7 linked regions of the Homo sapiens genome follow. The protein of the gene in region 1 interacts with the protein of each later gene in a biochemical or structural test. Each region holds a gene or a part of one and is shown on either strand. Other genes may lie near its edges. The genes, in order: RAPGEF6, PDZRN3, DGKZ, MPP7, MAST1, CLDN14 and CRB2.

Evidence for each region.
Region 2: the proteins of RAPGEF6 (region 1) and PDZRN3 interact in a test that uses a peptide from one of them, tested with the Homo sapiens proteins (one large-scale study listed by IntAct).
Region 3: the proteins of RAPGEF6 (region 1) and DGKZ interact in a test that uses a peptide from one of them, tested with the Homo sapiens proteins (one large-scale study listed by IntAct).
Region 4: the proteins of RAPGEF6 (region 1) and MPP7 interact in a test that uses a peptide from one of them, tested with the Homo sapiens proteins (one large-scale study listed by IntAct).
Region 5: the proteins of RAPGEF6 (region 1) and MAST1 interact in a test that uses a peptide from one of them, tested with the Homo sapiens proteins (one large-scale study listed by IntAct).
Region 6: the proteins of RAPGEF6 (region 1) and CLDN14 interact in a test that uses a peptide from one of them, tested with the Homo sapiens proteins (one large-scale study listed by IntAct).
Region 7: the proteins of RAPGEF6 (region 1) and CRB2 interact in a test that uses a peptide from one of them, tested with the Homo sapiens proteins (one large-scale study listed by IntAct).

What each region holds. Positions count from the first base shown.
Region 1 is NC_000005.10:131,460,428-131,464,520, forward strand, and holds part of RAPGEF6 (rap guanine nucleotide exchange factor 6), read right to left. Parts: intron 3,855-4,093; coding exon 3,614-3,854; coding exon of another isoform or gene 3,610-3,613; exon of another isoform or gene 3,186-3,609; intron 1,662-3,185; coding exon 1,278-1,661; intron 1-1,277. UniProt on the Homo sapiens protein: Guanine nucleotide exchange factor (GEF) for Rap1A, Rap2A and M-Ras GTPases. Does not interact with cAMP.
Region 2 is NC_000003.12:73,600,614-73,604,706, reverse strand, and holds part of PDZRN3 (E3 ubiquitin-protein ligase PDZRN3), read left to right. Parts: intron 1-2,245; coding exon 2,246-2,353; intron 2,354-4,093. UniProt on the Homo sapiens protein: E3 ubiquitin-protein ligase. Plays an important role in regulating the surface level of MUSK on myotubes. Mediates the ubiquitination of MUSK, promoting its endocytosis and lysosomal degradation. Might contribute to terminal myogenic differentiation.
Region 3 is NC_000011.10:46,374,963-46,379,055, forward strand, and holds part of DGKZ (diacylglycerol kinase zeta), read left to right. Parts: coding exon 1-83; intron 84-469; coding exon 470-669; intron 670-888; coding exon 889-989; intron 990-1,103; coding exon 1,104-1,183; intron 1,184-1,365; coding exon 1,366-1,435; intron 1,436-1,439; exon of another isoform or gene 1,440-1,522; intron 1,523-1,561; coding exon 1,562-1,602; intron 1,603-2,110; coding exon 2,111-2,250; intron 2,251-3,235; coding exon 3,236-3,267; intron 3,268-3,494; coding exon 3,495-3,538; intron 3,539-4,028; coding exon 4,029-4,093. UniProt on the Homo sapiens protein: Diacylglycerol kinase that converts diacylglycerol/DAG into phosphatidic acid/phosphatidate/PA and regulates the respective levels of these two bioactive lipids.
Region 4 is NC_000010.11:28,054,625-28,058,717, reverse strand, and holds part of MPP7 (MAGUK p55 subfamily member 7), read left to right. Parts: intron 1-114; coding exon 115-223; intron 224-868; exon of another isoform or gene 869-1,072; intron 1,073-2,094; coding exon 2,095-2,238; intron 2,239-4,093. UniProt on the Homo sapiens protein: Acts as an important adapter that promotes epithelial cell polarity and tight junction formation via its interaction with DLG1. Involved in the assembly of protein complexes at sites of cell-cell contact.
Region 5 is NC_000019.10:12,872,196-12,875,757, reverse strand, and holds the end of MAST1 (microtubule-associated serine/threonine-protein kinase 1), read right to left. Parts: intron 2,435-3,562; coding exon 2,247-2,434; intron 2,150-2,246; coding exon 888-2,149; 3' UTR 806-887; downstream 1-805. UniProt on the Homo sapiens protein: Microtubule-associated protein essential for correct brain development. Appears to link the dystrophin/utrophin network with microtubule filaments via the syntrophins. Phosphorylation of DMD or UTRN may modulate their affinities for associated proteins.
Region 6 is NC_000021.9:36,473,275-36,477,367, forward strand, and holds part of CLDN14 (claudin-14), read right to left. Parts: intron 1-4,093.
Region 7 is NC_000009.12:123,354,340-123,359,089, reverse strand, and holds the start of CRB2 (protein crumbs homolog 2 precursor), read right to left. Parts: upstream 2,894-4,750; 5' UTR 2,830-2,893; coding exon 2,736-2,829; intron 1-2,735. UniProt on the Homo sapiens protein: Apical polarity protein that plays a central role during the epithelial-to-mesenchymal transition (EMT) at gastrulation, when newly specified mesodermal cells move inside the embryo.

The sequences.
Region 1 (4,093 bases):
CTCTCAGTGTCAATCAATTTTCTTCATAGTGGACTCTAAAACTGAGCCCGTAATTTTCAAATTCTTTACTTGATGCTTCCTTTACAAACAGGTTCCATTTCTAGCCTTCCAAGTGTTTATCAGTGGCATCTTTATTCCTCTGTTTTAGACTTAGCTGTTTAAAAACTGTGATATAGGTGGTATTTTACAGATAAGAAAACCTATCTTCAGTTTTCCACTGACACATTGCTACTATATGGGAGAGGCAGGATTCAAATACAGGTGCAGCTGATTCTAAAGACCACTCTGTTAATCTCTATTCAATACTCCTAGAGTGTTCAGTTCAGTTGTAGACACTGGTTAATTTAATAAAGGCACATCCTATTACCATGACAGGGTCATGAATAAAGAGTCCCTATAAAGATTCTACTTTTTAATCTTAATCTACATGAGGAGTAGAAACAAATCATTATGAATTCTGTGGGGGATGTGTATAGGTAGGATTAGTTCAAGTGGAATTATGCTGCGATTTATAAGCACATCATGGCCTTAAAAATGGAGCTAACTACAACTCCTCTCCCTTTTAAAATTAAACTTGTTTTAAGAAGAATCCCTTTGTTGATCTACAGTGTGCTAAATAAAGATCAGAAAATAAATTACCTACAATTAACTTTTCATAATAAGTGGGAAGAAGGGAGTGGGAGAGCTCACGTAATTATCTACACTTCCTGGGCTTATGAATGTCAAAACATTTTTATTATTCTAACAGCCTAACTTGCTTGAGGAACACCACATCCAGTGAACCTCATGTAGTGCCTGGCAAACAGGAAGAGCTTACCAAATGGTTGCCATTATTATCAATGTTGTTGTTTCAAAATAGCAACTTTAGGTCAAAGTACTGATACCATACTGTGATTTTTCAGAGTCAAATCATAGTGAGGCAGGTACTTAAAAAAGCACAGTACAGAAGTCTAATGATAAAGACCAGCCACTGGGCACATATCCAAAGATGATATAATCACTCAAGGCGGGGGGTTGGAGATGAAGGGAGAGAAAGAAAAATTAGAAGGCAATCACCCACTTTCATTTACAAAAAAGAAGTAAAAGAAAGATGGAAGAAACAAAAATAGAAAAAGCCAATACCACCAAAATGGAAAATACATTAAATCTAACAACACTTCAATAAAGGCATATTAATTGAACATTTCTTTTCATAGGCATTGAATACCTAAGTAGAAAATCAGCTGCATGTAATGACAAAACCATACAGACATTTGTACCTATTTGTACCAACTTACCTTATTATTGCAAACATGGAATTGAAGTTCTTACATTCTCGACAATGAAGTGCAATTTTAATAAAATGCTTAATAATCTTCATTCGTTTGAGCTGATTTGCTTCAGTTAAAATTTCTGAGGCAACCCAGAATGTCTCTTGGTTTACAATGTCCTCAAACCTCTTCAAATGAGTATTTCCTGTTTTGGAATTTAACTTAAAAAGGTCATCGATGTACTCAGTCGGTTCAATATTACGAAACAAATCAAAGTCCCTCATTGACAGCTGGGTGGCCACCTCAATGGTACTGAGCTGCAGCATGGATAGCTGGCTTTCCTTAACTAGTTCTTGAGCATCTTCATCTGAACATAAGGTTTCTGTTTCCATGTTATTTTTTAAGTAATACCTAAATGGAAAAATTTTTTTAAATAAATGTATTCATAAATATGATTAAATAAGAGCACTTTTCCTTTTTGTCGTTGTAAAATATCATTTTACTGTTAATAACTTTTAGCCAAAAATATTAATTTACAGATAAAATGAAAAGTTAACATTTTAAATGAAAAGATTTTTGAGAAGTCTGTCTCTTATTCTACCAACTGGCATCTATTAAAGAGTAAAAATAATGTTGTTATGTCATGAACTTAATTATTTTATGAAACTATCTGTCAGATACTATTTTAGGTACTGGCCTTGCCCTCGTAAAGCTTTTATCTTACTGTTTTATCTGACAGAGGATTGGTACTATGTAAATATTTGTTTATGAATAGCATGAATTCTAATTAAGGCAAAATAAATTCCTGAATCAAGACGGTTAAAAATCTCTATTCAGAAGTTACTCCACTCACTTCCTTTTTAAATAAATTTCCAAGTGAAGCAAGAGGAATGAAATCTACAGAGGAGGGGAAACACTTCCACTAATGGTTTCTCCCTTGTTAAATACAAAACCTCATTCCAGCAAGTGGCACTTATCAGTTACCACACATTAAGACCTATATTTTGCTTTCTTCTCTTAAATCAACAATTCTACAGCACTTAAAAGTAAGAGACAGGAAACATCTTGTGCAGGGATGTTACTAAGGAAACGAGGTAATGTATCACCTGCTTTTACTTCGTTCTTTTCTAATAATCCAACTTGATTTAAGCCTAAGTTTGTATCCATCTATCCATCTATTTTTTACTGTCAAGAAACTCTTTTTTCTGCTTTTAGACTGTTCATATGCCTAAGACAATGCCATAAATAATAGTGCTGAAACTCATTATGCTATATATAATAATGTTTAACATTATAAGGTATGGTATACTTAGTAACTCATTTAATCCTTACAACATTCCCATGAGGTATATTCTACTATTACTATCCTCATTTTATGGGTGAGGAAATTCAGGTAGAGAAGCTACATATGACTTGCTCAAGGTCACATAGCCAGAGCTGGGATTTGAATGTGGGCAATCTGAATCCAGGGTCTATGCTCTTAACCACTATGTACAGCCAGCAAAACAGAGTTAACTCATTCTCATTTCACAGCAACCATGGCATGCAGTCACTGTAAGCTTTCTAGGGATCTTGTTCTACATATGAAACTGGGTTACCAAAAAGATTATTCTCAGAGTGGTTGAGTGTGGTAGCTCACACTCGTAATGCCAGCACTTTGGGAGGCTGAGGCAGGCAGATCACTTGAGGTAAGGAGTTTGAGACCAGCCTGGCCAACACGGTGAAACCTCGTCTCTACTAAAAATACAAAAATTCGCCAGGCATGGTGGCATGTGCCTGTAGTCCCAGCTACTCAGAAGGCTGAGGCAGGAGAACCGCTTGAACCTGGGAGGTGGAGGTTGCAGTGAGCTGAGATCGCGCCACTGCACTCCAGCCTGGGCGACAGAGGGAGACTCCATCTCAAAAAAAAAAAAAAAAACCAGAGTAAGGAACAAATGTACTACAGAAATAATCTAGTTTATTAAATAATTTTCAGAACACATTTTAAAATTTTTAAAATTTTCCTGCATATTCATTAAAGGAAAACTACTTAGAAAAAGAACTGTGAAAACCATGGCTTCTTTTGCCAAAGTACATACTGGCCATATTAAAAACAAATTTATAAATTAGTAGATACAGTCATTCAGATATATATGAAGATTTGTATCATTCAGCTTCCTCTATAAAAAAACAGGAACTAGATTATATCAGTGGTTCTAAGAGTTTATTTTAGCAGGAGTGACAAGATATTTTATCAAGCGTCTTCTGGAGTGAATTTAGGAGCACTAAAACATGATAATGTTTCTACTTACAATAGCTGTTTTAACAGGAAATCTTCAAAAGCACATCTACAAATAAGCACATCCACTAATAAGCTTATTCACCTTCCATTGAGTTGAATTCTATCAGCTAATTTGGAGAACTGATCTGGAAGTCTTCTCTGTTTTATGACACCCTCAGGAGTAACAGAAACTTCACAGAGAGAATATGTGTCGGATGCACCGGTCAAACCAAATTCATGAACAGCATGAAAAACTACTTCTTTAGCTGTGGTGTCTTTACTGATGATAATGTAGCAACTTTGCTGATCCACTTTGAAAACTCTTATAACTTGATCAGGGATATCTACATAAATAGAAAGATATGCTTTGTTATTTTTTAAAAAAATCACTTTTAAACCCTTCAAAAAGCAACGTGAAACACAGTGATCCCTCTGAACACTGAAATATACATTTCTATTTCACAATATTAACAGAAGTCACTGTTGCATTTATTGATAAATATATCCTTTTTTTTTTTTCAGATAACAAATCATTGATAGAAAAACCCAAAAACAAAACTTGGGCTCATACTATATATATGGT
Region 2 (4,093 bases), on another chromosome or scaffold:
AGAGTAAACACAGATCTCTTTTCATTTGATATATTGACATCACCTCTTAGGGAACTCAAGCTTGTTCATAAATCTTTTGTGGTCCATTGAGACTCTTCAAGTTCATCTAGTGGAATATTCCATAGCCTGAAATGTTGGACTTCTGAATTCCTGTGTGTTTTGAGTTTTCTCAGTGGGAGACAATATTGCACACAGAGCATGTAATGTGCAAGAGGATCCGCTTCGCCTCAGTTTGAAACTGAGCCATACCACTTTTTAGCTGTGTGACCTTGGATGAGTTTCCGAACCTCTCTCAGTCTCAGGTTTTTCACCTGTGGAATGGGTAATAATAGTACTTACCACTTGTGGTTATTGTGAGGATTAAACAGTGCACATAGAGCACTCACTATGTACCTGGTACCTAGTTTGTGCTCAGTAAAGGAAGCTGCTTTGCAGCTTTATACATATATTTCAGGTGTGCATGTAGGGAGCTACACGGATGTGTTCAGACTAGTGCCTCAGTAAGGCTGCCGTGAGAGAGGAAGGAGGCACAGAGGTATTCAGATGGTAAAGGGTTAGTGTGCAGGAGGTCTGTGCAGAGCACTGTGATGCTAGGCAGGGATGCCTTTTGAGGATAGATGATCCTACACAGCACCCACAGGCTCCCTGACCCTTCTCTTGGAAGAGCGTTGATGGAATCCAGATGCCAGTTAGAGACATATCTTTGTCATGTGGGGATAAATGTCAGGAAAAACACTTAATGCTCATTTTAGGTTGTGATTTTGGTTTCTTTTGGTGAATCATATAACATTTTACTCTGTGTGTGTGTGTGTGTGTGTGTATGTGTGTGTGTGTGTTTGGGGAAGTGTGAAGAAGGAAGGAGAGAAGGACTGAGAAATGTACATTTTTCCAAGCTTAGTTATTGCTGTTGCATTTGAAGGGGTAGACTGAATCACACTTGAAGTCGTTTCCTTCCCCCTTTAGAATATAGGGATTGTTTTTTGGTTTTGTTTTTTGCTGTTTAAAGTGGAAAATGTTTTATTTGAAGAGTTATTTTTAACAAATGGAATTTTTATGTATTTGTATTCAGAGTAATTGTTATTGAAATAAATCTTCTAATGACATACGGCAAGGAATTTACCATGACTAGATTTTGGAGTTTTTGTGGAACATTCTGAGCTTACATTTCAAATGATTTTGTTTGGAAATATCACATGCTTGTGCCATTTAATTTATAAATCCATCTGTTAATCACTAGAAATTTAATCCGTACACTTGGAGAGAATTCATTGCAGTGCTGTTTGAAAAGAAGTTCGTGAACAAGCTGTGAGGGTTTTTTATGAGCTTGTTGGAGCCTTTTGATTTTAAGGAAAGGAAGGAGTTTGAACAGTGAGCTGTCTTCGTTCCCAGAAAGTTTTAGTTCTGACATTTAATTCAAAGATCTAAAGAGATTCAAGGAGGTCAGAGATCAGAATTTATTAGGACTAGAGTGATGGTAGTGCATCGGAACAAAAACAAAATATCTGTTTTCACAGTCAAATTATTAGATATTTACAAGTTTAATAACATTCTGTGCAAATGAGGATGTGGGAAAACACTCTGTCTAATGAACAATAAGTATAAACTCTCTGAAAAGCCATTTGGCAATATCTTTGAAATGTACATATCCTTTTACCCAACAGTTCCATTGTTAGGGATTTGCCCTAGAACTATAATAGCAAAGATAATTTAAAATACAAGTAGGAGAGTATTATCACAGCATTGTTTAATCACAGCAAATGAAAACAGTGTTTATTAGCCTCATGTTGGATACTGTTCAGTCACTTTAAGAAGTAAGGCAGACACGAATTGGTAGCAGAAGATCTTCATGATTTTTAGAGTTAAATGAGAGAGGCAAGGACATAAGAGTCAGACTAGCATAATCACATTTGTATGCAAAAAGGAACAAATGCATATTTAGGAATATGATGTGTTAAAATGTTTTCAAAAGGATGCATAAAGTCAAATAGCTACCATAGGCGGGGGAAGAAGGACAATGGGTTGGAGATGGCAGGGATGCATCATTTTATGTCCTTTGGTGTGGTTTGAAATATTTTACTGTGTGTGTATTTTAGTTTAAAACAGAAATTAGGAGAAACAAATACCTTTTACCCTATTGCCACTCTTGACACAGCAAGAGTCAATTACTGTTTTAAGAGTGCAAGCTTTACTTTCATGCTCAACTTAATGCCTAGCATTCATGCATGTTTTTTTTTTTAACCCAAAGGATAACCACGATGGATCATCCAGTGAAGGAATCTTTGTATCCAAGATAGTTGACAGTGGGCCTGCAGCCAAGGAAGGAGGCCTGCAAATTCATGACAGGATTATTGAGGTATGTGAATACTGGCCAGTGTCTTTGAATAGGCTGAATGCCATCCCATCTTCGTCTAGCTCAAAGCAAGATGTTTGACTGGGGAGGGAGGCCTAAAGTGGTAGATGGTTGAGCGGGAGTCTCACTTTTCCCATTGTGTGGGACCAGATTGAGTGTTGATTGCCTTGGTGTTAAATTTTTGTTAAATGTAGAAAAGCCAGATTATGAGTGGAATGTTCACAATTTGGCTTTTTTCATGTGGACCTCAATCTGTTTCGTATGCATCAGTTACAGTTTCGCGCGAAAACCGTTGAAGAGTTGGATGTTAGAACCAGATGAACGAACCCTGTTGTACAAATTGTGCACCCTGTTCATATTGATTACCAGGGTACAATTGTGTCAGCTTTGGAGTCATTCTAATGTCCTCAGAGCTCACACAGCACACACTTATTTCTACAAATGCATTGTTCTCTCTGTTAGTTTGTCGTCTTTGCCTGTTGTTAGTTGTACAACCTGATTGCCCAGGGATTTGCAGGCAGAGGTTGATATTAGGGTTCACATATCATCACTTACTCCATTTTCAGTTCGTCATTCATCATTTCAAACTTTTATACAGCAGGTTTGTAGACTCATGTAGGGGAAGTGGATCTCTCAGCCCCACCAGACAACACTTTGTAACAGGGTTGCAGTGTTCTAGGATGCTCTGAGTCACTAAAAGGGAGAGAATGATTTGTTGCCTTCTCATATGGGCTCTTGTTGCAAAGTTTGATATAAATGAGTAATTTTTTACTGGTGTTTTGACCATTTTCATAGCTCTTTGGATGGATACACATATGGGCTAAATTGATTGGCTTTCCTATTAGGCAAAAAGTAAATTTGAGAATCCACGATGATATGCCAGACCCCACAAGAAATTCACCCATGGGCCACAGCCGTAATATAGTGCAAATAGAAGAAACCAGAAAAACAGCACCGATACCAGTGGGTGTTTGTTTTCCACATGCATTTTTATCATGTCTGTATTTCCTGAGTATTTTCATGGCCTATTTCAAAATTTAGGACTGAGTGGGAGCTAGGACCACGAGCTAAGCCATAAGTGAAGTTCACATCACTCACTGGAATGTGGCCACAGGCTTCTCCTGGGGAAAGGAGCCTCAGCAAGACAGAGAACAAAGTCTTGCATTTCCAGTCTCATCTGGACACATTCTGCAACGTGCAGTATGCTTCAGGATAATTTGTAATCCTCAGGAAAATACACAGTTAAATCTCACAGGGAAAGCAAACTGAACTAGTTAGGGTGTAAGGCTCCCTCCTCGGAGGGAGTGTGATGTGCTAACTTACATGCTAAAATGATACTTGATTTTGTTTTAAGGACATTATTAATATTGTTGCATCCCCTTTGAATGTTTGAAGGGTTCTTAAACTTGGAGCTTTTTTTGCTGCATGGTTTAGAGTCAGTCTTTGTACTTCCCAGGTCAGGAGACTGGATTTTCCCTAACAGGAATTTGCTTGGGCAAGAGTGCTTTCTTAAGAGCTCAAATGCGTTACTTACTGTCTTTTTTGAGAGTGAATACATTTTCTGAGACTATTGTTCAAAAAGATAAGTACAGCTTCCGTTGCCAAGGGTTTGGTGGAACAGCCAGTTTCTCTAAGTAATGGAATTTCATTGCTCTTGTGTTTTGCAAATGAGAAATCTACAGCTGGGCAGGATTTTCTCTTGGCAAAGGATGATCTGTATTTGAAATGTTGAGTACGGTTTCT
Region 3 (4,093 bases), on another chromosome or scaffold:
ACCCTGGGGAGCACCACGACTTTGAGCCCCAGCGGCATGACGACGGCTACCTCGAGGTCATTGGCTTCACCATGACGTCGTTGGTGAGTGGGCCCTGGGCCCATGGTGCCTGGGAGCACAGCCCAAAGGTGGAAGGGGTCACCCATACTCACCTCCATGGGCCACGGCGGCCTAGTTCACCCTCACCTCCCTTCTTTGTCTCATTCCTCTGGCTTGAGAGCGGCACCTACCCCCTCTCCTCACTATGCCTCGGGATACCTTCACTCCCCACTCTGACTGGAGCGTCACCCTCATTGCCTCTGTCCCTTCCCTTTCCTACCTGGGGTCTCAGCCTCCCCTCTGCCCTCTGGCCAGGGGTCACTCTCACCTTTGTTCTCTGGCTAGAGTTTCTGCTTCGGAAGGAGCAGAGTCTGGGACCCCCCTGCCCCCAGCCCTGGTGCCATCTGACCCAAGCTTCCTGTGCCCACAGGCCGCGCTGCAGGTGGGCGGACACGGCGAGCGGCTGACGCAGTGTCGCGAGGTGGTGCTCACCACATCCAAGGCCATCCCGGTGCAGGTGGATGGCGAGCCCTGCAAGCTTGCAGCCTCACGCATCCGCATCGCCCTGCGCAACCAGGCCACCATGGTGCAGAAGGCCAAGCGGCGGAGCGCCGCCCCCCTGCACAGCGAGTACGTCCCACCCTGCCACGTGCCCTGGGTGCCAAGGCCAGACCCTGCCCTCTCTGGGCCTTGATTTCCCCATCTGTAAAAGGGGCTGACTGTCCCTCTGCCCCAGGGGTGTTGGGAGTGGAGCGGGACCTTCTCTCGGCAAGTGGTTTGGTGCCAGGCCGAGGGTGGCACCAAGGCAGGGCCCTTGCTGAGCCCCCGCTTGCCGGCCCTGCCCGACAGCCAGCAGCCGGTGCCAGAGCAGTTGCGCATCCAGGTGAGTCGCGTCAGCATGCACGACTATGAGGCCCTGCACTACGACAAGGAGCAGCTCAAGGAGGCCTGTGAGTGCGGTGGGGCGGCCTGGCAGGGTGGCCAGGAGGGGCTGAAGCAGCCGGGGCCCCCTTGGGCAGGGCTGTGGGGTGCAGCCAGCTGCTGACAGGTGCTCTGTTCTCCAGCTGTGCCGCTGGGCACTGTGGTGGTCCCAGGAGACAGTGACCTAGAGCTCTGCCGTGCCCACATTGAGAGACTCCAGCAGGTAAGGGGTGGGGGCTTCCCCAGGTGCCCACCGAGAGGGTGGTGGGAAGTGAGGCCAGGCCTCTTCCTCCCGCAGCCAGCTCGCCCTGCGGAGCCTCCTCTGTGCTGGTTCCCCCTACTCCAAGTTCCCTTCCCTCCCTGGCCCCCACTCTATCCCAGCCTGGCCTTTGCTTCTCTCAACAGGAGCCCGATGGTGCTGGAGCCAAGTCCCCGACATGCCAGAAACTGTCCCCCAAGTGGTGCTTCCTGGACGGTGAGTCTACTCCCAGGGTGCCAAGCTGTTTCGTGTTCCCTCCCTAGGGGATCCCAGGTAGGGGCAGCAGAGGACCTGGGCCTGGACATGGCACTCCCTGATCCTCAGCTGCCCTCTCTCCCACAGCCACCACTGCCAGCCGCTTCTACAGGATCGACCGAGCCCAGGTGAGCGATTGCAGGCCTGCTCCAGCCACAGCTGCTTCCGGGCCCCAGGGTCGCCTCTCCTGGGACGCCTTCCCTGTTAGCTCCCCCGATGGGCTCACCTCTGTCCTCATGCCTCTGAGAGCTTTTACTATTGCCTGTGTGCATGGACAGCGTGCGGCCCTGCCCTCCACACTGGAGAGTATAGGGCGGTGCCAGCCAGAAAGGCAGTGGGGTACCTACCAAAGGCTTGCTGGGTGGGTAGGAGGGCCTGGAAGCCCAGAGCCATCCAGGGAGACACAGAAGCAAAGGCATTCTGGTCAGGCGCCAGCTCACCTGGTAAAGTCTGGGCAGTCGGAGGAGGTGTCAGGAATGGGAAGGAGTGGGAGAGGGACAGGCAGGGCCCCTTGCCTGGCCACCTCCTTTCAGTGTTTGTGCTCATGGCAGAGGCTTCTCCAGGTCTACCAGCCTTGCTGCCCCTCGGCCCCCACCGTCAGGTGCCCTGACCTCCCGCCCTGACCTCCCCCCACAGGAGCACCTCAACTATGTGACTGAGATCGCACAGGATGAGATTTATATCCTGGACCCTGAGCTGCTGGGGGCATCGGCCCGGCCTGACCTCCCAACCCCCACTTCCCCTCTCCCCACCTCACCCTGCTCACCCACGCCCCGGTGAGTCCTGGTGTCCCGTCCCTCCAGCCCCTGGCTTTCAGCCCCACCTGTAAGCCGATGACTTCTGAATCCCTGCTTCTAGCCCCTCCACCAGTTAACTAAATGGTGTCAACCTGAACCTGGCCAAAGCCCACCTGACGGCCTTCAGCCCTGTGGTTCTGTGGGGAAGCGGCCTCACGTCCACCCTGGTTCCCTCCCTGACTTCTCCCTCCTCTGGACCTCATCCTTCAGCCAGTCCTGGCAGCCCCCGGACCCACCACCTGAGCACTCCTCCCCACCCCTACTGCCACCAGCCCTTCCCGGCTGCCACGCCCTGGCCCCCAGCTCTTATATCCCTGTGGCCATTCGTGCCCTCGAACCCCCATCTCCATACCACGGTCAACTAAAAATGCAGAGCATACCAGGCCACTCCCCAACCTAGAAGCTTCTTTCTCAGCAGCCCTTTGGACGTGGATTCTCCCCAGGCCCCCCGTCATTGCACTGGGCTCCCAGCCCCCTCCCTGAGTTCACCTCCATGGTCCTGCCCCACTCTCTTCTCTTGGTTCTTTGAGGCATCAGGTGTTTGCCACCACTGGACTTCTGTCATCGCTGCCTCCAACTCTTCCCCCATCTTTCCGGAGCTCCCCCACCCCCATCCCCTTCGAATCTCAGCTTGGCTGTTTCCTCCTTGGAGAGATCACTCCCAGGACCCCCTCTGCAGGGGTGCCACATCACCTGTTCTGAATTCTTAAGAGCACCCCTGCTCTCAGAACTCCTTATTTATTTGACTTGTTTGTATCCCTGAACTAGAATGTAAGCTCCATGAGGGCAAGGCCTTCCTCTGTCTCGTTTCCCTGCTGTATCCCCAGTGCCTGGAATAGTGCTTGGTGTGTAGCAGGCACTCAATAAACTGTGGAAAGGATGAAGATGCCCCCAGTTGGGGTTGGGGAGGGCGACCAGCTGGCCTGTGCCGTAGCCGGTCACAGCACATCATGCTCTGTTGCAGGTCACTGCAAGGGGATGCTGCACCCCCTCAAGGTGAGGCCTCTCCCTCTGGGGCCCCTCCTTTCTGCCTGGTTGGGGGCAGGAGGCTCAGTGGGGTGGGGATAGGGCCCAGACACAGCCTTACACAAACACAGCCTTTGAGCTTCACGCACCAACGGAGCCCTGGGCACACATGCCTGGCCGGCACAGTCCTGTCCACTGAGGCACCAACCCAAGCCCAGGCCTCCGACTGCAGAGTAACAGGCAGGTATTCCGTGCAGGTGAAGAGCTGATTGAGGCTGCCAAGAGGAACGACTTCTGTAAGGTACTAGCTCCAGGCTCCAGTTCCTTCCCCCAGCAGCTCCCTCGGGCCCTGGGGAGCGAGGCCTCTGGGTTGGGCCAAGAGCTGACCTGCTCAGGTGCTGTCATCTGTCATCGTCTGGCCCTCTGTGGGATCTCCAGTGATCGTCCCATTCCACTTCACTGTATCTCTGTCTAGGCCACAATAGATGGCTCCTAGTAGGGGCTTCCTAGCTCAGTCCACCTGTCCCTGGTGCTTAGAAAGGAGCAGGTCAGAGGAAGCACTGCTCCAGGGCTTGGTCACCAGTGCTGCCAGAGAGCCCACAGGCTGTGGGGTGAGAGGCCCCTCCTCCGGTGTGCTCCAGAGAGACCCACAGAGGCAACTCAGGAGTAAGATGTGTGAGCGCACTCGTTTCAGGCCTGTGCTGGTGTACCCGGCTGTGGGCCAGCGTGTGAGCTCAGGGAAGGAGGGGTGGCCCCAGGAGGTCCAGCCCTGCCATGCCTCCTGCCCTCAGCTCCAGGAGCTGCACCGAGCTGGGGGCGACCTCATGCACCGAGACGAGCAGAGTCGCACGCTCCT
Region 4 (4,093 bases), on another chromosome or scaffold:
CAGTTTAAAAAAATTACGTGTTCAGCAGAAACGTCTTTTACCTATGAATTTTATCTTGCCACCTATAATTGTTTTAAATTCACAAATGATTCCAATGCATTTAATTTTTTACAGGTTTATTGAATATGGAGAATATAAAAACAACTACTACGGCACAAGTATAGACTCAGTTCGGTCTGTCCTTGCTAAAAACAAAGTTTGTTTGTTGGATGTTCAGCCTCATGTAAGTAAACAATGAGCTATTCAATACCCTTCTGACCCATGTCATCTACAGCACCTCATGTGAGCATTTCAGTATGAAATAATATGAAGTCAACTCACTTTTGGCATATATGTGGCTTTTCTGAGATGGCAAAAGCATTTAAATATAATTGGAGACATCTTTGGTGGAGAAAAAGAAAAGCCCATAATATTATTAGAAAGAGAAGTGGAGGAAGCTCCAAGACCTGTGTTTGTAACTCTTATTTATATTCAGTTTTTGTCAAGTAAAGCAACTCTTAGATGTTTCTACATATTCTGTATTTTTAAAAAATACATCACATTGTTACATGCATAATGCATTCTTATGTGTTATGTATTAGTAACAGTGTCTATAATTTTTAACGATGGACATTTTGGTTCCAAGTCTTTGACTTTGGTTCTGTATATATCCTAGCAAATAACCCCCCACTAGAACTGAAGGGCATTTTGCAGGAAATGTACTGAATGAAAGCCCCATTGCAACTGCCATGTCTGCACCTGTCATCCTGGAAACTCCATTATGAACATTCTGAACTGAGAACTTCAGTGGATGAGGCCATTCAATTCCCTATCAAACCATACATCTTCCAGCAGATCCCCAGCCCACAGCATTTTCCTCATCCCCCAGGGACCATGGTTTCTCCTTCCACTGATGGCTGTACCCTGGGGTGCAAAACCTCCAAATGCTAGAATGACCTGCGGAAGCCCTTTGGACCTCTAAAGGAAGATGAATCTGGAGTAAAAGTGTTTCAAGAATCAGGAAGGCTGCCTCCTGACTTGGGCACTGTGTTAGTCCCTTGTTGCACTGCTCTGAAGAAATACCTGAAACTGGGTAATTTACTAAAAAAAAAAAAAAAAAAAAAAAAAAAAAAGAGGTTTAATTGGCTCACTGCTCTGCAGACTGTACAGGAAGCGTGATGCTGGCATCTGCTCAGCTCTGGGGAGGCCTCAGGAAACTTGCAATCATGGCGGAAAGCAAAGGAGGAGGGTTGAGCACTTCACATGGCCAGAGCAGGAGGAAGAGAGAGAGAGGAGCGAGGTGCCACACACTTTTAAACAACAGGGTCTCACGAGAACTGACTATTGTGATGACAGCACCAAGGGGGATGGTGTTAAACCCCGGGAAAATGCCCCTATGATCCAGTCACCTCCCACAGGCTGCACCTACAGCAGTGGGGATTACATTACAACATGAGATTTGGGTGTGGACACAGATCCAAACCATATCAGGCACCAACAGTGAATGGGACAGTCCTGCTTATGCAGAGCCTCTCTGCTGGTGTCCCAGGTCCAGTTGCTGTCAGACTCCCACAGTGTAGTATCAGCTCATGAATAATAACTTTCAGCTCTCACCCTCTGTAGATAGGTCCCCAGAAGTATAGAGTATAGAACATCAAAGATTTGATGAAGGAATCTAGACAGGCATCATGGAGAGCAGGAGGCTGCCCTTGTAGGGTACTCTGAAGGATAGGGTGAAAGAGGAGAACTCCTGCCTGAAATCAGAAAGGGGCTTAAAAGGGATGGTTGGAAGACATTTGTGGACAGAAAGTTATTTAACTCATCACACCTTTGGAATATTTGATCTAAAAACCAGTTTTGTGATATTTTTAGTCACTTCTGTTCAATGTTAATTATGATGTATTTCAGAACATTTTAAAATGCCAAGTTACATTCCCCAGCTTCTTTTCAGAAGTGTTTGTTACATTTAATTGTCAACAGTTAATTGAATAATAATATATTGAAATGACTACTGACCTTAAAGAATAATTTTGAGGAATTTTCTCCTAGAAAGAAAATTCAGTAATTCATGATGCTATGGAGAAATGTGAGAAAACTTTCTTTTCTTCCTTGTAGACAGTGAAGCATTTAAGGACACTAGAATTTAAGCCCTATGTGATATTTATAAAGCCTCCATCAATAGAGCGTTTGAGAGAAACAAGAAAAAATGCAAAGATTATTTCAAGCAGAGATGACCAAGGTGCTGCAAAACCCTTCACAGTAAGTATAATGATGCTTGGGGGCCAGGTGTGGTGGCCCACACCTGTAATCCCAGCACTTTGGGAGGCCGAAGCAGGAGGATCATTTGAGTCCAGGAGTTCAAGACCAGCCTGGCCAAGGTGGTGAAACCCCATCTCTACAAAAAATATGGAAATTAGCCAGGCATGATGGTTGGACACCTGTAGTCCCAGCTACTTGGGAGGCGGAGGTGGGAAGATCATAAGACCCCAGGAGACTGAGAGTGTAGTGAGCTGAGATCACACTACTACACTCCAGCCTGGTAGGCAGAGGTGGGAAGATCACAAGACCCCAGGAGACTGAGAGTGCAGTGAGCTGAGATCACACCACTACACTCCAGCCTGGGCGACAGAGTGAGACCCTGTCTCAACAACAACCACAAAAAGCTTGGAGATAAGATATAAGCAGTAGATAAGATGTAAGATACAGTTGTATATATGAAAACATATATACAGCTGCATGTACTTGGGAAGAGTATAATAGATACAAAAATCAGTGAAAGAATTGTATTTAGGTACATACCTTTTGAACAGTTACACTTCTTGTGCTTTGGTGAATGGATCTTCATATTCAATTGACTCAAAACTATTTTGTATACTATTATGTGAACATTTCATACTATTGTAGGCTGAACATTTGTATAAAATCTAGACCAATTAATTTTCAGAGCAGCCTTATTTTTAAAGCTAAAAATACCATCAGTAACTGTTACTCATTAAGAGTCCAAATGAAAAATTTAATAATGTGCCTTGCTTGTCTCCTTGTGTCAACAATTATATTTAGCACAGCAAAAGAAAATCACTATTTTGGGTATAGGATAAGTAGACCAATATTATTCAGCAATAATATTTGTATTTTCTATGAGTGTTATTGGAAATGATGATTGTGGTATATTCATGACTATTATGGGTTCTGGCAAGACCTTTTATTGTTTTTCTTCTTAATCTTAATATATTCTACCTTTGGACCAAAAATCAAAAGCAAAGAAATTAAATGTGAAGAGCTTATTTTTTTCTTGCCCCTCTTAATTAGCTCATCATTAACTTTAGTTTATATTAATTTATGAACTGTTCATTGTGGTTACAAAATACAGATCACATTTCTGATTCCCAGTATATTTGATAAATACCTTTTTTTACATGCCAACAGTACATATCCGTTCTGAGTAGGTACTGTCATACAATGTTAGTTACTCAGGCTCTTGATCAACACTAAAATTAAATTTTCTGTTATTGTGAAATCTTATGTGACAATGAAATGCAGACTCAAATTATTTCAGCATGTTGCAACATAAAGATTTATTGTACTATTTAGACATTTTAAAGGTTTCTCAACGAAGATAAGAAAGGATCACATATTCTTAGGATTTGGCTCTCTTACATTTATGTTATATAGCCAACTAAAATACTTCCTGGCTTTAAAAATGTGAGACACGAAGGCTCCTGAAACACTTTTAATGAGACATCGAAGGAACGTGGTAATCAGCCGGGCGTGGTGGCTCATGCCTGTAATCCCAGCACTTTGGGAGGCCGAGGCAGGTGGGGATCACTTGAGGTCAGGAGTTCCAGACCAGCCTGGTGAACATGGAGAAAATCCATCTGTACTAAAAATACAAAAATTAGCCAGGTGTGGCGGCACGCTCCTGTAATTCCAGCTACTCGGGAGGCTGAGGCAGGAGAATTGCTAGGACCCCGGAGGCAGAGGTTGCGGTGAGCCAGGATTGCACCACTGCACCCCAACCTGGGTGACAGAGTGAGACTCTATCTCAAAACAAAAAACAAAAAACATGGTAATCATCCTTTTACAAATTTGTCCAACTCTGAAAAAGGAGTTTATA
Region 5 (3,562 bases), on another chromosome or scaffold:
TGATTACGCCAACCTGGGTCACATAGCAAGACTCTGTTTCAAAAAAAAAGGGGGGGCGGGGGACGGGTGGGTGCAGTGGCTCACATCTGTAACCCCAGCACTTTGGGAGGCTGAGATGGGCAGATCACTTGAGGTCAGGAGTTCGAGACCAGCCTGGCCAACATGGTGAAACCCCATATCCATTAAAAATATTTAAAAATTAGCCAGACATGGTGGCACGCGTCTGTGGTCCTAGCTCCTCGGGAGGCTGAGGCAGGAGAATCGCTTGAACTCGGGAGGCAGAGGTTGTCATGAGCTGAGCTAACACCACGGCACTTCAGCCTGGGTGACAGAATGAGACTCTGTGTCAAAAAAATAAAAAATAAAAAATCTAAGGGCTCAGGAACCAGTTTGGACTTGATTTTGAATCCCAGTTCATCCCCTTCCTAGCTGTATGACCTTGATTGTGTGCCTTAACCGCTCTGTGACACAGTCTACCTGTCTGCAAAATGGGAAACATAATACCTGCCATCAGGATTGTTGAGGAGTAAATAAATGGAAATTGGTGGACGAGGCTGTTAACCTTCTCTTCAGGTGGGCGCTGGGACACAAGAGCATCGCAGCTTCAATTCTCCCCCTAAAGGTTTGGGGGCAGTTGGTGCAGAGGTGAGACCAGAAGTGGGACCACAGGAGGTGTCTATCCAAAATTCCCTCCACTCTCCATGGTAACCAGAACTGGAGTCCCACCTCCCAAAAAGCACCTGGGCATGGGGGTGGGGTCGTGTGATGTCTCGCCTTGCCTGGAGAGGAGTGAGCCCCAGAAAACTCACGCAGCACGGACGCACTTTATTTATATGTGTACATATGTATACGGAGGCTGTACAGCGCGGGGCCGATGACCCCCTTGGCTATGGTCCCGGGGGTGCGGGACTGGACACTCCTTTTTTGGTCAGGCCTGCTGGGGGCACAGCTTCAGCAGGGCACCGGGAGGTCAGCCCCACTTGAGGCTTGGTGCCTGAGCCCAAGAGGGATGCGGGTGGGACTGGGGTCACTGCACTGCTGGGTGCACTGCACTTCGCTGGGGCTAGGGAGGGTGTCTGGGGCTCCGGGGAGAGCTTTGGGGAGGCGGGCTTGGAGCGAGGACCGCTCAGCGTGGTGCGCTCCTCCACCACCTCCAACACCCAGCGCTCCCGGCCCCGGGGGGCCTCGGGCACGGAAGGCGCCAGGGGTGCGGGTTCCTGCAACCCCTTGGAGTCCGCGCCCAGAGGCTGAGGCACCACAGCCTTAGCCCCGGGCCGCGCAGGCTCTACGACAATGGGTACCAGGGGTGTGCCCGCCTCGCCAGAGCTGCTGCGCCGGCCTGTCTCGTGTTCCTGCACCGGGCTCAGCGCCGCCTTGGCCACAGCCCTGGCCATCCCGCCAGTGCCATCCTCCGTCTGCACGCTCTGATGCCGCGTGCAGCCGACGTCCCGCTCCAGGGTCCGGCCACCGGGGGTCGTCGCGCGGGGTGGGGTGCACGCCTCGGCGCCCCCCGGGGATTCCTTCTCCTTGCTCGACACTGGTGGCCTGGAGGCACCCTCGGGCAGCAACGGGTCCGCGCCCAGGCTCAAAGGTGACTCCTGTCGGCCCAGGCGGCGGACGGCGACCTGCCGGGGCGCGCCAAGGCCCTCGACTGGGGGCGTCTCACCGTCGGACTCGGCAAGGCTATGCAGCGCCAGCTCGCCATGGAAGTCCTTGCGGAAATCCGGGTGGCCCACCTCGAGGCTGTGTTTGCGCAGCGCGCCCTTCTTGTCCGCACTCAAAGAGGCTCCCAGCTTCTCGGCCGACTGCACGCGCTTGAGGAGCGGCGAGCGAGGGGGCTCGGCACTCTTGGGGCGCGGGCGCACGACGGGAGGCGATGAGTGCAGTTTGGCCGGGAAGCTCTGAGTAGTGTGCGAGCTGCCCACCGTGTGGCCCGGCAGTGGCGGCGGTGACGCCTGCGTGGGGGACGGCGTGTGTGCCAGCGGCGATAGAGGGATGTTGCCGGCCGACTTGCATCGCGCAGAGCGGTACTGGCGATGGAGCTTTGGCGACAGTCCGTGCAGCGTGCTGGGCCGAATGTGGTGCGACGCCGACGACGCAGGCGAGTTGGGCGTGCTCGAGGCTGGGGAGCTGCTCTGGGATGAGGCGCCTGCGGGAGACAGGAGGTGAAGCGAGTGAGTACAGCCCAAGCACCAGCCAGGCCACCCCGCGCTGCTCGGTCCCCGCGCAGGTGCAGGAGGTAATACCTAGGTAGGCGGAGTCAGGCGTGGAGCGGTAGCTGTGCGTGGGCGAGCGCGCCGGCAGCCCGTGCGTAGGCGAGCCCGGGAGACTATCGCTGGATGACAGCGAGCGGTTCAGCGACGACAGCGAGCGGCTAGTATGCAGCAGGTTCGACTGCTTCGTGATCTTCCGGAAGAGGGAGCTGCGCTTCTTGCTGCGGGACAGGGAGGGGGCCAAGCGTCCTTGACCTGGACGCCAGAGCTCAGGGCTCCTCCCATTTCACGGCCTCACAACGGTAACCACCCACCCCTTCTGGCCCTTCCCTCTCCAGCTACAACCCACCTATCAAGATAAAGAACTTCCTTTAGCTCAGTGCTGCTTGGCTCCTCCCACTTCAGTCCCCACCCACCCCCTTTGGCCACTCCTAGTCCAAGCTAGAAACAAGCATCCAAACAAAACCAACCTGTTCTGCCCCGCCCACCTCTCTAGCTCCTCCCTCTTCCACTACAATCCACCTATCAAGATAGAACTTCCTTTAGCTCCTCCTACTTCAGGCCCCGCCCAACTTTAGGCCACTCCCAATTCTGGCTACAAACACTCATCCAAACAAAACCATTTTTTTTTTTTTTTTTGAGACGAAGTTTCGCTCTTGTCGCCCAGGCTGGAGTGCAATGGCACGATCTCGGCTCACTGCAACCTCTACCTCCCGGGTTCAAGCGATTACCGTGCTTCAGCTTCGTGAGTAGCCTCCTGAGTAGGTGGGACTACAGGAGTGAGCCACCACTCCCAGCTAATTTTTGTATTTTTAGTAGAGATGGGGTTTCACCATGTTGGTCAGGCTGGTCTCAAACTCCTGACCTCAGGTGATCCACCCACCTCGGCCTCCCAAAGTGCTGGGATTACAGGTGTGAACCACCTCGCCCGGCCAAAAACAACCTCTTCTAGTCCTGCCCACCCCTCTAGTCCCTCCGTCTTTCACTACAACCCACCTATCAAGACAGAACTTCCCTTAACTCAGTGCTGCTTGGCTCCTCCCTCCTCCCACTTCAGGTCCTGCCCAACCTTTTGGCCACTCCCAGTCCAGGCTAGAAACACATCCAAACAAAACCAACTTGGTCCCACCTGCCTCTAGTCCCGCCTCTTCCACTACAACCCACCTATAAGAGTGGGAAGAAATGTACTTATCTCAACCCCGTCTGGCTCCTCTCACCCAAATCCCTGTACTTGTCTGGGCCAAACTCACTGATCAAAACAGAATACTAAAAACAAACAAACAAACAGAATACCCTTCTGGCCCCACCCACCTCCCACCTAGCTCCTCCTATCTATAAGGGAAAATAGG
Region 6 (4,093 bases), on another chromosome or scaffold:
GGAGGTCCCACTATGTTGCCCAGCCTGGTCTTGAACTCCTGGGCTTAAGCAATCCTCCAACCTTGGCCTCCCAAGGCTGTTGGAATTACAGGTGTGAGCCACTGTGCCTGGCCCACCCTGCAGATTTTGGACTTGCCAGCCTTGAGAATCATGCAAGCCAATTCCTTAGAATAAATAGATCTCTTTCTATATAAATGCATATTCGATTGGCTCTGTTTCTCTGGAGAACTCTGACTGATACAGAGGATGAAGGGCAGAAGAGAGGAATTTTCTTTTGGACTTGTTCAGTTTGAGATGTCTGTGCCTACCCACCTGGGGATAACCATGGTTGCATATGTAAGTGCAGGGTTCAGGGAGGGACTGAACTGGAGAAGTCTGTTTGTGTCACCACCGCATGGAGATGGGATTAAAATATGGGATGGAGTCTCTTAGGAGGGAACGTTAGATAGAGAGGAGCAGGGGCTCCAGGGCTGATTCTAGGAACCCTCCAACATCAGGGGAGGGATGAGGATAGAGGTAGGAAGAGGAGCCAGCCACGGGCTGTAGGAATGGGCGATAGTGAACGGTCAACCCAGAGGAGACTGGTGAGGGAGGACAGAGCTCCATGTTGGAGAGAGCAATCTACTCTGTCAAGTCAAGTAATCTGATAAATCAAGTCATCTGAGCACTGAGAAGTGGTCACTGGATTAGCAACATGAAGGAAATTGGAGACCTTGATAAGCTCAGTTTCGGCGGAGTTGATTGGAGTGGGTTCAAGAGAGAATAGGGACAGAGGGACAGGAGGGAATGAGCCCAGAGAATTCTTTCAGGAACTTGGACCCTCCAGGGGAATCAGGAAATGAGGCAACAGTTTTAGGATGGGTTCCAGGGCCCATAGACCTCAGGATATCTGTCAACTCAGCCAGGAAAAAAAGTGACATCTTCTATTTCATCTACCTCTCACTGACAATTAGCATTTCCTTCAATCCTGAATGTAGGCAGCCACCTACAGCAATATGACCAGTGCCTGTGCCTTAATCAGCAATAGAGACCATGATATTTTGCATCGCATTACAGGCGTTGCAGATACCTGCAAAGGACATTTATCACTCTAACAATTTCAAATGATACTTATAAGATGCTTGCTAGACCTCATGATGTAATGCATTAATAAGGAAGGTCGTCCATTACTAGGAACAGAATTGCACTAAAATATTTTGATAACTATGTTTTACTATAATTCACTTCCTTTATAATCCTGCATGTTATGTGTTATATTACACATTTAAAAGTATTGTGCTGAGAAGAATACATCAGCTTCGCCAGATTGCCAAAGGAATCCCAGGCAATCCCCATCCCGCCACCCAGAACAACACCGATAACAAAAAACTAAACCAAAAGAGTTAGAAACCTCTGCCAGTGGGATGTGTAGGCAAGAGAGGACCCTTGTTTTGCTGTTGTTTTGAAGATGAGAGGCATGGAAGCATGTTTGCATGCCTGAGGAAATGGTTCAGCGAGGAGGGAAACATCTGTAGGGGCAGTAGGGATCCTGTGTGCACATGGAGAGACCAGCTCTGACCAGCATGCAGAGAACTCACTCCAGAACGGGAGGGGAGGCGGGAGCAGGAGGCTGGGGGAGATGTCAGTGGGCAATAACGCATGTTCTGAGTTTGCTCCAAGTTTCTCAGGGAAATAAGAAGCAACATGATGTCTTGAGACAGGAGATGGGGGAGGAGGTGCGGGAGGCTTGAGCACAGAGGAGGAGACCATGGTCATCCAGGAGAATGACCGCAGGCCTGGACCAAGTCAAGGGGTCAAGTGCTAGTCAGTGCCGGGTGCAGGTGGGGCAAGTGGTCCTGCGGGTACCATAGACTATCACGCCGGACAGCCTTTCCCAGCACCATCAACTGCACTGCGAGGGTCCCAAGTGGACAAAGGGCTGGACTGGACCTGGTGGGGATTTTCCTAGGGGAAAATGATGAAGGCAGACAGCCAAGGGAAATATGCGTGCACACAAAGGTGTGAACATCATGGCGGGCCGTGGCGTCAAAGCTGGGATGGAGGGACATTGAGGACAATAGAGAAGGTCTGTTCATCGTGGAGAAGTCACCTGGATCAGTGGCTCTCCACCCTCCTGCTGTAGCCGCAGCCCTTGGAGAGCTTTAAAAAGATCCGGATGCCCTGGCTACCTCCAGAGATTCTGATTCGCTGACTGGGGTGGGGTCCATGCATGGGAATTTTCGAGCTCCTCTCCCCCACCCGGTGATTCTGATGTGCAGGCAGGTTTGAGAACCAATGGCTTATTTATTTCATTAAAAATTATTTTTCACTCTGTTGGCCAGGCTGGAGTGCAGTGGCACAATCACGGCTCCCTGCGGCCTTGACCTCCTGAGCTCAAGTGATCCTCCCGCCTCAGCCTTCCGAGTAGCTGGAACTTCAGGTGTGAGCCACTGCACCCAGCCCCGCTGGCTTCATTGATTTAACTTTTTTTATTTTATTTTATTTTATTTTTTTGAGACAGAGTCTTGCTCTGTCACCCAGGCTGGAGCACAGTAGGATTACAGGTGCACGCCACCACACCCAGCTAATTTTTGTATTTTTAGTAGAGACGGGGTTTCACTCCGTCTAGGCTGGTCTCAAACTCCCGACTTCAAATGATCTGCCCTCCTCGGCATCCCAAAGTGCTGGGATTACAGGCATGAGCCACCACCGTACCTGGCCTGATGTAACTTTTAAAGGTCCTATTAGGAGCTTTAAAGAGTCCAAAACGGTTTAACAGAGAGTCATAGTTCAGATGTCTGTTCTGCTGGGCCTGCCTGCTGAGTGCAGGCTCTCTTTGGGATCTCCTGAGATGGAGACAGGTGTCTCTGGCCTGTCCCTGGAATATTGTCTCACCTACCCATAAGGCTAGGCTCTCCCACTCCCTTCGCTTGAAATCCTCTTCTCCAGCTACAATCTTACCTTCCCTCCTGTGGCCCTGCACCCTTGCCTTCTGCCATCTAGAAAAAGTGGTTGGGGGGGTGGTTCTTTATTTATCTTGCTGCCTTCTGGCTCTTACCTTCCCAGAGCCCCACGGAAGCCTGTTCTTACAACCTGGGTCCTCTTCCTGGGACCCCAGCCCACTGTGGGCACTGAGCCTCCCTCATTGTTAATCTTGGCCAAGAAGTTACCCCACAGGCATTTATATTTTAATGGATGACTATTTTTTTTTTTTTTTGAGTCAGAGTCTCACTTTGTCACCCAGGCCGGAGCGCGGTGGTGCGATCTCAGCTCACTGCAACCTCCGCCTCCCAGGTTCAAGTGATTCTCCTGCCTCAGCCTCCTGAGTAGCTGGGATTACAGGCGCCTGCTACCATGTCTGGCTAATTTTTGTATTTTTAGTAGAGACCAGGTTTCACCATGTTGGTCAGGCTGGTCTCGAACTCCTGACCTCATGATCCACCCGCCTTGGACTCCCAAAGTGCTGGGATTGTAGGCGTGAGCCACTGCCCTCGGCCCATGGATGACCTTTGAAAACAAATCTCCTCCTGGCCCAGGCCCCAAAGCATACACTCACAGTGGTGAGAATGATTGGGTGAGTCTTCCAGAAAAGCCTGTGATAGTTTGATATAAAGACATTTAGAATTAATTGGGTCAGGTATGAGATTTCAGATTGCAGAAATCCTTGTGTAAGCAAAGGCCTTGCAGCTAAAGTAGTGCATGGCAGGTGTGGCTTAGCCTTTAGACATACACACAGTGGCCAGATTGTGCATTTGCTCTGAAGAGTACCAGGCCCTGTAGGTTACCTTTGCCTGCTCTCAGGACTTGCTAGATAATTTGCAGAACCCAGTGCAAAATGAAAATACAGAACCCCTTGTTCAGAAATTATTAAGAATGTCAAGATGGCGTCTGCAGAACATCAAGCCAAGTGCAAGCCTGTCTGAGCACGGGGCTCCCTGTAACTGCACAGATCATGTGCCTGTGAAGCTGTCCCTGCCTGCTATGGACATGCTGGGAACTGGACATTGGGATTTTCCCCCCTTAAAACAATGAGTGCATTGAGTTAGAATGTTGAAAGGAACAGAGACGCTCTTGCAGTGTTCTGTAGAATCGAAAATATGGTTTCATATGTTTA
Region 7 (4,750 bases), on another chromosome or scaffold:
TCAGGGACGGAGCACCTACCCTGTGCCTGGCACTGACCAACCCTTGAGAGTTTGGGCTCAGAGCACAGTTCCAGGGAGTTACCTCCTGAAGTGAGGGGGAGACAGAGCAGGTGGGGTTCCCCACCTGCCACCCAAACAGGCCACTTTTAACAATTTTACTATTAACTATTCATGGGCTTCCATCTAAAATTTCCCTTGAAATTGGGGGTTCCATGCCAAAACCTGGGGTGGGGAACCGCTCACTGCATTCTCTTCCAATCCTTATACCAGCGCTCGGAGTAAGCCAGTCTGTCCTCGTTTTGTAGAGACAGAGAAGAGACGTGACTTTGCCTAGGCAAGTAGCACAGTGTACTGTGAAATCCCAGCACTGGCTCTGGGGCTTCCTGGCTCTGGGACTGGCCATCTCTGGGCCTCGTTTACCTCCTCTGTAAACTAGGGGTATCAGAGCTGACTTCATAGGCTGTTGGGAGAATTAAATTAGACCTCGTTAATAATAGCACAGTGCCTGCCATGGAGTGGCTGATCTTACTCATTAACAATTCTTTACTTGAGGCAGACACCCACTGTCCAAAGGATCCTGACATTGGGTTGAATGTGTGTGGCTTTCTGCTCCATCTCTGCTTCTGTCCTGCAGGCCCCCACCCCCTTCTGGCTGGAGGAGGGGCCGGACTTGGGGCCTGGACTCACTGCCCCTTTGTCTGCTGGGCTCCCTGGGTGTTTGGGGAAGGGAGGGTGGATATGAGAGCCCAACGTGCCCCATTGTACTCCAAGATGCTTGGTCCTCTCCATGGCAACCAGCCGGGCCTTTGTGGCAAATTGGGCCCAGGATGGAGAGGCCCAGCTCAGGGCCTGGCAGGGGTGGGGAGAAAAGCCAGGGGCCCATGGCCTCCAGAAGCCCCCATCCCCTCCAGGATGGAAATTGGTTTTCAAGTGACAAAATCCCCAATCCCTCCCCTCCCGGCAGGCAGTCTAGGGTACCAGCATGCAGAAATGGTCATGCCTGCAGTGTACCCCACCAACTTTTAGGGATCCCCAGGGATGGCGCTCCCAGCACAGAAATGGCAGAGGAAAGGCTGCCCCTGGGCAACCCAGCAGGCCTGATGGGTTGAGTGTACACACCAGTGTCCAGACCCCCCACAGCCTCCATCCACTCTGTGCCTCCAGGTCCCCTGTGAGTGCACACTGAGTGTGAATGCACACATGTCCACATGTGCGTGTTGGGGTGTGCACATTGGTGTGCAGGCACATGCCATGTGTGTAGGTAGGTGCATGTGCTGGTAGATCCACATGTGTCTGTAGCACCTGTCCCTGTGGTGCTGTGTGCCCTTGGGCATGCCACACAGGTGTGCGGAGTGTGGGTGTGTGAGCATCACAGGGCAGGGGACAGAGCACCGATCCACAGACCGGGATCTCACGTGCTTTGTATGCAGAGAACAGAGAGGAGCAGCCACCCCGCCCCCCGCCACCATGCCCCACCCCTCTATGGAGCCCAAGTCGCCTGCCAGCAGAGCCCAGCTCATAAGTCCCCGTCCCTCTCTGAGCCTTGGTTTCCTTCACTGCAAAATGGGGTCCTCATCCTCCCTAGGGCCCCATAGAGAGGATAGGAAATGAAAGCTTTGTGAGTGCGGGAAACATGAGGGTCCCCAGGTGGGACTGGGAGACACTTGGCCCCCACACCCTACAGCCTGTGGAGCTCTGGGGCAGGGAGGGCTCCCCCAGCCTCAGGAGAGCCCAGGCCCTCCTTGGCTCCCTCCCCAGCCTGTGGTGGTGGGGGCAGGGGACTTCCCAGGCCCGGCCCCTGTAACTATAGTAACTAACACCAAGCGTTCCCTTGGACCCCCCAGGAGGAATTCCAGGCTCCGAGAGCTTGGACAAAAGCAAAAAGGGCTTGGCAAATGTGGTCTGGCTTCAGGGAGCCCTTTCAGATTGGCCTTGGAATGCTGGGGAGGGGGCAGCAGGGGACACACACATGTTCCCAAATCCCCAGCCACCCCACAGGGACCCAGAGCATCCCCAGCAGCCCTCAGCACAGGCAGGGCTACCGCACAAATGGAGGGGTGCGGGCAGGCACCCAGCTCCCTGAGTCTCCCTCACGCTTCTCCACTCAGTCCCGAGTTGGGGTCGGCTGTGCACATCCCACACCCCTCATGTTGAGAGCAAAGACCTAGTTCAACCCTGGACAACCTACACCCCACAGCGTGTGCTAGGACACAGCTCACCACACCCAACTCCTCGGACACAACTCACGGCTCACCCCAGACAGCTCATCCACCTCCCAACTCTAACACACCCACAACCTGTGCCCCACAACCCAGCATGCGACACAGAACAAGCTCTGGGGTGAGGCTTATGCCACCTGCAACTCCCCAAACTCAGCCCCTAGAAACCCAGAAGTCCCCCAGCCCTTTACAGGATGCAACACAGCACCTCCCAAAACACGCACCCCATCCCTCACCCGCATCAGCTCCCCCAAATCATGCCCAGCCCCCGATCCCCCAACCCCGAAACTTACAACCCCCCTCAACATGAAACAGCCCCGAGCCTCAGAACACACTCACCTCCGTGGAGCCCCACAGAGTCTGGGGGCCACAGCCGCGCACTCCTGTGCACCCCACAGCTCAGGCCTGCACCCACGCGGACCAGCCCACCCACCACCCCAGCAGCCAAGGCTTGGGGTATCTGTCTTGGGGGACAGACCCTCTCCCAGGCCCCTCCAGACATGGGCCCCAACTCACCAGCCAGGAGGGAAAGGGCAGGGGCCCAGAGCAGCAGTAGCAGGACAGAGGCCAGGGCCTGGGGGTCCGGGGTCCCAGGCCTGGCCAGCGCCATGGCAGCCCGCTCTGCGCTCTGCTCGGCTGCTGTGAGAACGGGAGGGCGGCCTGGCTGGCTCCGCACCCCCCTCGTCCCTCCAACCAGCACTAATGCTGTGGACAGAGGCCCAGCCCCTCCCTCCCCTCCCCGCCACCGCCTCCTCCTCCCACCCAGGCCTCCTGGGCTGCTCCACCTCGTGGACGTCCCTAGACATCAGCCCCAAGTCCTCAAGCCCCCTAGCCTGTGGGGCTGACCTGGTCTTGGCACCCACTGGTTTCTCCCTCCTGACCCTCTGCCCCACTCTCCTCCCACCTCTCAGGTCAGCCTCCTTGGAGAAATTTCTGTCCTTGGAGAGGGGGCTGTTCAGGACTCTCGTCTCACCAGGTGATGCCAGCTACTCCCAAGTCCTTAGTTATCCCCTCTCCTGGATCCCCCTCCCCACCTCTCCAGCCCGGGCCTCTCTCCCAAGCCCAGGCCTTCGAGTCCAGTCGCCTCCCAGACCCTGTCTCTGCTGGGAAGCTGCAGCCCCTCCCACCCAGCTCGTCCCCCCACCTGCTGCTCCCCAGTGCTCCCATCGGAGCCAAGGCACCTCCCATCGGGCAGCCCAACGCCCCCTCCCCACTCCCCCCTCCCCACACTCGGTCAGCCCCTAGCTCCTGGCCATGCCACCTTCTCAGTGTCTCCTGCTGTCCCCACCCCGTCCCACCCGACCACACACAGCTCCTCCCACCATCGGCCTCAGGATCAGCTCCCTGCAGGGCACCTCACCCCTGCACCACGGTGGTCCCTGCCTCCCTTTACCCTCTCCACCCTTCACCAGCCAAACTGAACCTTTCCCAGCTTTCTTCCACTTGACCTTGATCTCTGGCTCTGCTGTTTGCAACTCCAGCGACCTCACTGCAATCCAAAGCAGCCCATTCTACTGAAAGGCAGCTCTAACCAAGCAAGCATTGCTCTCCCCTGCCAGGAAGTCCTTCTTGTTGTCTAACCTTATAGTCTCCTGCTGCACTCGATGTTTGCTTGCTCTCCAGCTGGCCTCTTGTTGGGGTGGACAGGAGGAGCTCTTCAGGGGGACCTGGTTCAGGAAGCCAGGTCATCTCAGAGACACTACAACATAGAACAACATTCCTTTCTTCTACCACCCTCAGCCCCAGTGGGGAGAGAATCCTCTTGCTGAAGGGACTTTCCTGAAATGAGCCACCGGCCCCTGCCAATACATGCCTGTTTGTCCCTATTCAGTAACCGTGGATACAGCCCACGCAGGCCCTGGGCTCTGGGATGTGTCCCTGACACGGGAGGACACAGCCTGGAAAGACAGCAGGAGCCATTGAGGGAGGTCCAGATGAGCTAGAGGGATGGGCAAGGGTCCCCTGCAGTGCAGGGGAGGGAGCAGTGGGCACCACACAGGCCCTGGCCGACCCTCTAGCCCGGGGCAAGTGCCACAGCCCTGGGTCCCCAGGGACCAAAGGAGGGAACCCAAAAAGGCCTGGGTAGACTCCTTATCCACTGCCCCTGCCCCATCCCTGCCCTTGAGGCCTGTTCTCTCCAGGGCAGGGATTGCCCCTTGGTTTCTGGGACACTAACCTCTCTCAGTCCATCTTTAATCCCCTGCCTCTCCAATACAACAGGATCCCTCTCCCCAGGTGGGAGAAGCCCCTCTCCATGCCACAGGAAAAGCAGAGGCCTCACAGCGTAAGAGATCTGGGTTCGAGCCCAGCTCAGCCACTGATTAGCCGGTGACCTCAGCACGTGACTTCCTTCTCTGGGCCTCAGTCTCCTCACCTGTAAAATGGTGGCGTTAGTGAGCCAAGGCGACAGTGCCAGCTCTCTTTATCCAGCTTCTCAGTGATCCCCCAGAGACCCAGGCAATCCCAATGGGGGGCTGGGGGGAGCACGGCAAGTCAACCACCACCCTCTGGTTCTCTGGATGCACAGACAC